Regions from separate parts of the Homo sapiens genome. Here region 1 is linked to region 2. The links come from fine-mapping of genetic effects on gene expression. A gene starts in region 2. The other region holds a variant in brackets. All regions are shown on one strand. Distances are from middle to middle.

What was found. PIP is the estimated chance that this variant, and not a neighbour inherited with it, causes the effect. A credible set is the group of variants that fine-mapping cannot tell apart.
Region 1: its variant is the best candidate, but not a certain one, in a credible set for the expression of CYP2F1 in platelets (CEDAR, PIP 0.85).

What each region holds. Positions count from the first base shown.
Region 1 is chr19:40,824,427-40,828,815 of GRCh38, reverse strand. It overlaps the pseudogene CYP2F2P. Among named protein-coding and RNA genes, the nearest start is that of CYP2A6, 24 kb to the left of the region's middle. RefSeq lists enhancers at 1,433-1,932, 1,933-2,434. The variant T/C (reference allele first, on the strand shown) is at 2,364.
Region 2 is chr19:41,111,848-41,116,194 of GRCh38, reverse strand. CYP2F1 (cytochrome P450 family 2 subfamily F member 1) reads right to left here and starts at 1,763. Exons shown (of 10, transcript NM_000774.5): 1 at 1,703-1,763; 2 at 1-17. The coding sequence starts at 6.

The DNA of each region.
Region 1 (4,389 bases), 290 kb after region 2:
TGACACCTTGACTTTATCCCAGTGAAGCTGATTTTGGAATTCTGGGCCCCAGAAGTAAAATAATAGTTTGGGGTCTGTTTGTTTACTTGTTTGATTGTTTGTTTGTTTGTTTGAAATGAAGCTTCACTCTTGTTGCCCAGGCTGGAGTGCAGTGGTATGGTCTTGGCTCACTGCAGCCTTGACCTCCTGAGCTCAACTGATTCTCCCGCCTTAGCTTCTCAAGTAGCTGGGATTACAGGCATGTGCCACCACATTCAACTCATTCTTTTAACTTTTTATAGAGAGGGAGTCTTGCTATGTTGCCCAGGCTAGTCTCAAACTCCTGTGCTCAAGCAATCCTCCTTCCTCAACCTCCCAATATATTCTGGGATTACAGGTGTGACCCACCACACCCAGCCTACATTATCTTTTCTTACTCAGTCCCTCCTGCCTCCCTCTAAAAAGGATCCCTGTGATTACATTAGGCCCAGCCAGACAGTCTAGAGTAAACTTCTCATCTCAAAATCCTCAACTTAATCCCACCTGCAAGGTCCTTTTTACCATGTAAGGTAACAAATTCACAGGTTGTAAGGATAAGGACCTGGACATCTTTTGGGGGGCATTACAACCTGCCACAACACCATGATCTGTAACAGCCTTGCAATGGGTCAGGCCCTTCACTGACTCCCAGTCACACACTCACTGACTCCTTATAGTAGCCCCAGGATGAGAGGAGTGCCATCAGGCCCATTTTACAGATGAGAAGACTGAGGCTCGGAAAAAGGAAGTCAGTTTGCCCAAGTCACACCAAGGCTAAGAGACCAACGAGGATTCAAACCGCGTCCATCTAACTCCAGATCTGGTTTTTTGGGCTGTGCTATTGTGTCCTGGGTGCTGTGTTGAAATATGCTGTTTTGGCCGGGCATGGTGGCTCACGCCTGTAATCCTAGCACTTTGGGAGGCCAAGGTGGTGGATCACTTGAGCTCAGGAATTCGAAACCGGCCTGGGCGACATGGTGAAACCCTGTATCTACAAAAAATACAAAAACTAGACCAGGCGCGGTGGCTCATGCCTATAATCTTAGCACTTTGGGAAGCCAAGGTGGGCACATCACTTGAGGTCAGGAGTTCGAGACCAGTCTGGACAACATGGTGAATCCCCATCTCTACTAAAAATACAAAAAAATTAGCCGGGTGTGATCTCAGCTCATTGGGAGGCTGAGGCAGGAGAATCTCTTGAACCTGGGAGGCAGACGTTGCAGTGAACTGAGATCGTGCCACCGCACTCCAGCATGGGCGACGGAGCGAGATTTCATCTCGAAAAAAGGAAAGAAAGAAATGTGTTGTTCAGTATTTACTATGGTCTGTTCAGCTGTTGGACGGCCAGATGCTACGTGTTGTGTTGAGATATTTCTGGGTGAGATTGTAGAGTTGTCAGGCACTGCATGTGATTTTGCATTGTGTCATCTGCTGGCTGCCAACGTTGTTGCGTTGCTGCATAGTGTGTCCTTTGTTCTGCTGCCTTGACTGTATGTGTTGTGATGCCACATCGTGTGTTCTGTGCTGTCTGCTGGGTTGCTGTGTACTAGCGTGTGTTGTGTGGCAGGATTATGTAGCGGTATGCTGGCATTACGTGTTGGTGTGTGGTTACCGTGTCTTGGGATGTTTCCGGGCTGGCTATTAGGTCACTGCGTGTCGTGTGTTGGCATGTACTGTGATCGTATTTGCTGGGTGTTCTGTTGCCCTGTGTTGTTGTGTTCCGTGATGCCTGATGATTGCCTTGTGCTATGTCGCGTGCTGTGTGTGTGTTGCCAACCTGTTCTGTGGTTGGGCGTTGTTGCTGTCGATGTGCTGCAGGAAGCTGTGGGTTCGGTGCTGTCTGTGGCATTGACAGATGCTTTTGGGGTGTTGTTAAGCAGCATGTTGTGACCATGTGCCCGTGTTTGCACCGTAAGACACGTTGCCATGGTTGAGTCGGATGTTGTGCAAATTAATGGTGTTGCTGCATGAGGTCTGGTGTGCTGCACATCGCGTCTTCCTGACCCATTCCATTCTTCACCCTCAGGCGAGCCCTTTGACCCCACGTTTGTGCTGAGTCGCTCACGGTCCAACATTATCTGTTCCGTGCTCTTCGGCAGCCGCTTCGACTATGATGATGAGCGTCTGCTCACCATTATCCGCCTTATCAATGACAACTTTCAAATCATGAGCAGCCCCTGGGGCGAGGTCAGCCAACTGAGTCCAGCAGGGGCAGGGTGTGGGGTCCGCAGGATCTAGGAATGGAGAGGAAACAGTGGGCGGGGAAAGGGCTGTGAATGGCCCGCCCAGGGCCCGCCCCCTCCCATCTGACCCCACCCAGAGTTACACGGCCACGCCCACTCCCC[T/C]CCACTGAGCATTTATGGCCGCCACTGCCTCCTTCCCACTCCCCCTCAGCCCCAACCCCCACCCCGGACCTGGCTGCCCTTTGAGACCCTGTCCCTGCCTACCTAATCCACACTGACCCCATTCGCCCCTGAACACCCTTCGTCCTCCTCCAAAACCCTCCTACTCTGTCTGGTCCCCAGTTGTACGACATCTTCCCGAGCCTCCTGAACTGGGTGCCTGGGCCGCACCAACGCATCTTCCAGAACTTCAAGTGCCTGAGAGACCTCATCGCCCACAGCGTCCACGACCACCAGGCCTCGCTAGACCCCAGATCTCCCCGGGACTTCATCCACTGCTTCCTCACCAAGATGGCAGAGGTAATCCCTACCTGGAAATCCCACCTCTAGTCTGACCTGAAATTCTCCTGCTGCCCCTGCCTCAAACCCACAGGGACCCCAGATGGGGCAGGGTTGGGGGACCTTCTCCCTGGAGAAGCTGAAGCATCTGGCCCAGCTGGGCTGGAGCCAGGAGCCACTCGCAGCCACCGCCAACTTACAGCTCATTAAGAAGTCATCAAAGGAGGTGGGGCAGGGCGGAGGGGGCAGTTGCTCAGGCTTGTTATCCCAGCACTTTGGGAGGCCGAGGCAGGAGGATCGCTTGAGTCCAGGAGTTCGAGACCAGCCTGGACAATATAGTAAGACCCAGTCTCTACAACACATACATACACACATACATACACACACACATACATACATACATACACACATACACACATACATACATCATACATACATACACACATACACACATACATGCACACATACATACACACACATACACATACATACACACATACACACATGCATACATACACACATACATACATACACACATACAGACATACATACACACATACATACATACACACATACACACACATACATACATACATACACACATACATACATACATACATACATAAAATGTATTTTTTAAAAAAACAAGAAGTCATTCAAGCTCTATCCAAGAAGTTAATTGTAGGCCCTGCAGCTGAGATTTTCCCTGCCCTGCCCTTCTGCGTTCCCCAGCTCTCCCAGGGAAAGAAAGTTAAACCCAGCTGGGACTGAATGGGCCCCCAGCAGCAGTTGTACTGGTCTAGAGTGAAGGGGTCTCCATCCCTGGCTCATATCCCCACCCCTCTACCACGGCAGAAGAAGGAGGACCCGCTGAGCCACTTCCACATGGATACCCTGCTGATGACCACACATAACCTGCTCTTTGGCGGCACCGAGACGGTGGGCACCACGCTGCGCCACGCCTTCCTGGCATTCATGAAGTACCCGAAAGTTCAAGGTGAGGCCCACCCACACAGCAGCGTGGAGGTGCCCATGTGTTCCAGCCTCACCCCAGAGCAGGGAACCACGACCCCACCTCCAGTCCCGCCTCCCAGGTCTGATATAGCCTCCTGCTGGCACCAGGATTCCACAGCCAAACCCACAAACCCACACGGAGGCCAATCCCACCACGTGGCCCACGAGGTCCACGCAGCCTGCCTGAATCCCGACCCAGATCCCACCCGCTTAATTGTTGGTTTTTTTGTTTTTGTTTTGTTTTTTGGAGACAGAGTCTCGCTCTGTCACCCAGGCTGGAGTGCAGTGGCATGATCTCGGTTGGCTCACTGCAACTTCTGCCCCCTGAGTCCAAGGCATTTCTCCTGCCTCAGCCTCCCAAGTAGCTGGGATTACAGGTGCACACCACCACATCCAGCTAATTTTTGTATTTTTAGTAGAGACAGGGTTTCACCAAGTTGGCCAGGCTGGTCTCAAACTCCTGGCCTCAAGTGATCCACCCACCTCGGCCTCCCAAAGTGCTGGGATTACAGGCGTGAGCCACTGCACCCAGCTCTGCTTAGTTTTTTGTTTGTTTTTGAGACAGAGTCACTCTGTCGCCCAGGCGTACAGTGGCACAATCACAGCTCACTGCAGCCCCGACCTCGGGCTCAAGCGATCTTCCCACCTCCGCCTTATCAATAGCTGAGAGTACAGA
Region 2 (4,347 bases):
GTCCATGGTGAAGGCAGCTGCTGGCGTGTGGAGGGCAAAGTGGGAGAGGACATCGCTGATCCCTCCTTTCCATCTCCCCTGGGACTTACCTTCCCTAGGCCCTGGAAATGAAGGCAGATGGAGAGAAGGAGACAGGGAGAGGCCAGGGGATGGGGAAGGGAGGGAGAAAGGAGGAAAGAGGCAGAGATAGTCAACATATAGACAGATAAGGAGACAGAAACACAGAGACATAAATGGAGAGAGGCAAGTGATAGAGGAACAGAGACTAAGAGAGGCCAAGAGATATGCATAAAGATAATGAGAGAGACAGAAAAACAGTGAGCGATCTACATATCTACAGATGTCTGTCTACCTATCAGCCATCTATCATCTATCACTCTTTCTTTCCTTCCTTCCTTCCTTTCTTTTTCTTTCTTTCTTTTTTCTTTTTCTTTCTTTCTTTGTTTCTCATCTATTATCTAACATCTATCAACATCTATCTATCATCTATCTATCTATCTATCATCTATCATCTGTCTATCCATCATCTATCTATTCTTCTATCATCTATCATTGATCTGTCTATTATCTATCATCTATTATCTATCTATATCTATCATCTATCTACTATCTTCATAATCTATCATCTGTGTATCATCTGTCTATTATCTATCTATCATCACCTGTCTGTCAAGAGACTGTCATACAGAGACAGTGATAAAGAGAGATCAAGACACACAGGGACAGAGACAGACAAACACAGAGATAGGGAGAGCCAGAGAGCACATCACAGAAAGAGAGAGGCTGACATAGACTAGAGAAAGAAAGAGACAGAACTAGACAGACACAGAGCTAGAGAAAGACAAGGGAGATTGAGTGGAGAGACAGTGAGATGGACACTGACTGAGAGACAGAGAGGGACATGGAAGGATGGAGAGAAAAAGGGTAAGAGGGACAGAGAGAGGGAGAGACAGAGCTAGACACAGAGACTGAGGGAGACGAGAATGACAGACAGAAACAGATACACAAAGACAGAGTCACATAGACAGAGATGGAGAGAGAGAGAGAGAGAATAAGAGAGGCAGGGAATATTAGAGCCACACAAAGAGACGGGTAGGCTGCAAAGGGCAGACCAAGAGAGACTGAGGCCGGGCACGGTGGCTCACGCCTGTAATCCCAGCACTCTGGGAGGCCGAGGCAGGCGGATCACTTGAGGTCAGGAGTTTGAGACCAGCCTGGCCAACATGGTGAAACCCTGTCTCTACTAAAAACACAAAAATTAGTCAGGCGTGGTGTTAGGCACCTGTAATCCCAGCTACTCAGGAGGCTGAGGCAGGAGAATCGCTTGAACCCAGGAGGTGGAGGTTGCAGTGAGCTGAGATTGAACCACTGCACTCCAGCCTCAAAAAAAAAAAAAAAAAAAAAAAGAGAGAGAGAGAGAGAGAAAGAGACGGAGACAGAGAGGAAGGGCACAGGCAGAAACAGTGACAGGAAAAAATCAAGTGTTGCCAACCATGGGGTTGCATTGCAGAGAGAGAAGCCACCTACTTGGTGAAGCACCAGTAAAGAAATCCCAGTGCTCAGAACAGGGACATGAGAGCTCTCAGAGGAAACAGCAAAAAAGATTCCTAGCCAGTCTCAGAGACAGAGATTGGAGCTGGCGACCCACCCTCTCTTGGGAGACACCCCCTCCTTCTCTGCCTCCCTCACCGGGGCCCTTTACCTGCTGAGCTGCAGGAGACACTGGCTGGGATGCGCTAGAGCCTGCAGCTCTGGGTGTGCTTGGGGGGTGGTGGGGCAGAGGTTGTTCTTAAGTTGTTTCTGCCCACACCCTCCTCCTTAACCCCACTTTTCTTGTTCTCGCTGTGAACTTTAAATCCCTCCCATCATCTTGCCATACCTTTCCTGCGGCCCTAGGGCTCACAGCCAGCTGGAAAGGTGCCGTGGGAGGGGGCTGCGCCTGGGGGCCCTCCTGGGATGGGGCAAAGCTTTCTTTCTTTCTTTGTTTTTTTTTTTTGCTTTGCCAGTTGGAGCCTGGGCCTGGTTTTGGGGTAGTCATGGGGCTGTCGCAAAATGATGGGCCAGGGATGGGGGCTGGGTTCCTTTGGTATTTGGGGCACTTGTTTCTTTTTCTCTGGGTTCAAGTCCATTTCTGCCACTGATGGGCCGAGTGGCCCTGGCTAAGTCCCTTTCCCTCCAGAGCTGGAGTTTTCTCTTTCTCTGGAAGCCTATTTTTTCATAGTTCTCCATGCTGTTCCCTGTCTCTTGCCGTGGGTCTCTGAAATGCTCTGTGTCTTGCTTTGCTTCTGCCTCTACAGTCTCTGCCTCTGAATCTTTTTGTCTCTCTGTGTCTCTGTCTCTCCCTCCTTTGGTGTCTCTGGGTCTTCATTTCTTATGCTCTCTGGGCTTTCTCCTTCTCTCTGCTTCTCTCCCTGATCTCCCTGTAAGTCCCTCTCAGTCACTGTCTCCTGATCTCTCTGGTCTCTCACTCTCTCTATCTCTCATGTCTCCACGAGTCAGACTGCACTTGGTGGGACTGAAGCCAAGCTGAGGCTGAAGGAGTGTTTAAGAAAAGGGCAGAGCTGGAAGCCACAGGGAAAAAGCCTCTCAGACTAGAATGACACTCTCTCCCACCACTGGCTCATAAACAGCCCTCCTCCTGCCCTCCTGAGCACCCTACTAGCCATGTCTACTCTCAGCTCCTGCCTTAGAAACTCACCCTAGTAGGCCAGGCGCAGTGGCTCACGCCTGTAATCCCAGCACTTTGGGAGGCCGAGGTGGGTGGATCACCTGAGGTCAGGAGTTCAAGACCAGCCTGGCCAACATGGTGAAACCCTGTCTCTACTAATAATACAAAAATTAGCCAGGCATGGTGGCTCACGCCTGTAGTCTGAGCTACTTGGGAGGCTGGGGCAGGAGAATCGCTTGAACCCGGGAGGTGGAGGTTGCAGTGAGCTAAGAACATGCCACTGCACTCCAGCCTGGGCAACAGGGTGAGACTCGGTCTCAAAAAAAAAAAAAAAAAAAAAAGAAGAAGAAACTGGCCCTAGTTACCCACCTCCTGGCCAGGTCACAAGGGCAGAATGCAAAACCTGGAGCTGGGCCAGGGCTCTGGTGCCAGGGGCTAGGCTGGGTGGAGAGCCCCTGCGGTCAAGGGTCTGGGAGGCCAGGTGGAGGTGTGGGTACCCCCACAGGTTCGTGGGTGTGCACCAGGATTGCTGTTCTCAGAGGGGCAGAGGAGGAAGTGTTTGGAGGTCCTGGGGAATTTGACACCCTAGGTCCCAGGCATATGGTGGGGTGGAGGTGGGGCCCATGCTGTTGTTTCAGTCCTGGATAGGCCGGTTGGGGCAGGTCCTGGAAGAGGGCTGAAGGCTTGATGATGGGATTATATAGCTCTAGTTTCCCTTGGCGTCTACTCCCTACTTTTAAGGGGAGGGTGTAGTGCTGTATCCACGCCAACCCTGTAAGCAACTTATCCCTCACCCTAGAACTTGGTTAAGAGGGGCCTAATGAGGCTGGGCGTGGTGGCTCATGCCTGTAATCCCAGCACTTTGGGAGGCCGAGGTGGGTGGATCACCTGAGGTCAGGAGTTTGAGACAGCCTGACCAACATGGCAAAACCCTGTCTCTACTAAAAATACAAAAAAAATTAGCCAGGCGTGGTGGTGCTTGCCTATAATCCCAGCTACTCAGGAGGCTGAGGCAGGAGAATCACTTGAACCCGGGAGGTGGAGGTTGCAGTGAGCTGAGATTGTACCATTGCACTCCAGCCTGGGCAACAAGAGTGAAACTTTGACTCAAAAAAAAGAAAAAAAAAGAAAAAAAAGATGGGCCTAATGGGACCACCTGATTGGGGAAACTGGGATTTATGGGAAGGGCAGTTAGTTAGTTTGTTTTGACACAGGGTCTCACTCTGTCACCCAGACTGGAGTTTAGTGGTGTGATCATAGCTCATTGCAGCCTCGATCTCCTGGGCTTAAGGGATTCTCCTGCCTCAGCTTCCCAAGTAGCTGGGACTACAAGCACGCATCACCACACCTGGCTAATTTTTAAAATTTTTAGTAGAGATGAGATCTAGCATGCTATGTCACCCAGTCTGGTCCCCAACTCCTGGGCTCAAGCGATCCTCCCACCTGGGCCTCTGGGGATTACAGGCGTGAGCCACCATGTGTGGCCGAGAAGGGGGGTTTTAAGAGGCTTTGAGTTCTGTTATTCTGACTTGCTCTCCTGCTACAGAGGGAACTTGGGGCAAGGAAGGGATGTATTGCAATTTCTCAACTCACTGCTGTTGATGTCTTGGGCCTTCATGGGTGGTGGGGGCTGCATCCTGTGTGTGGTAGGATGTTTAGCAGTGTCCTTGGTTTCTACT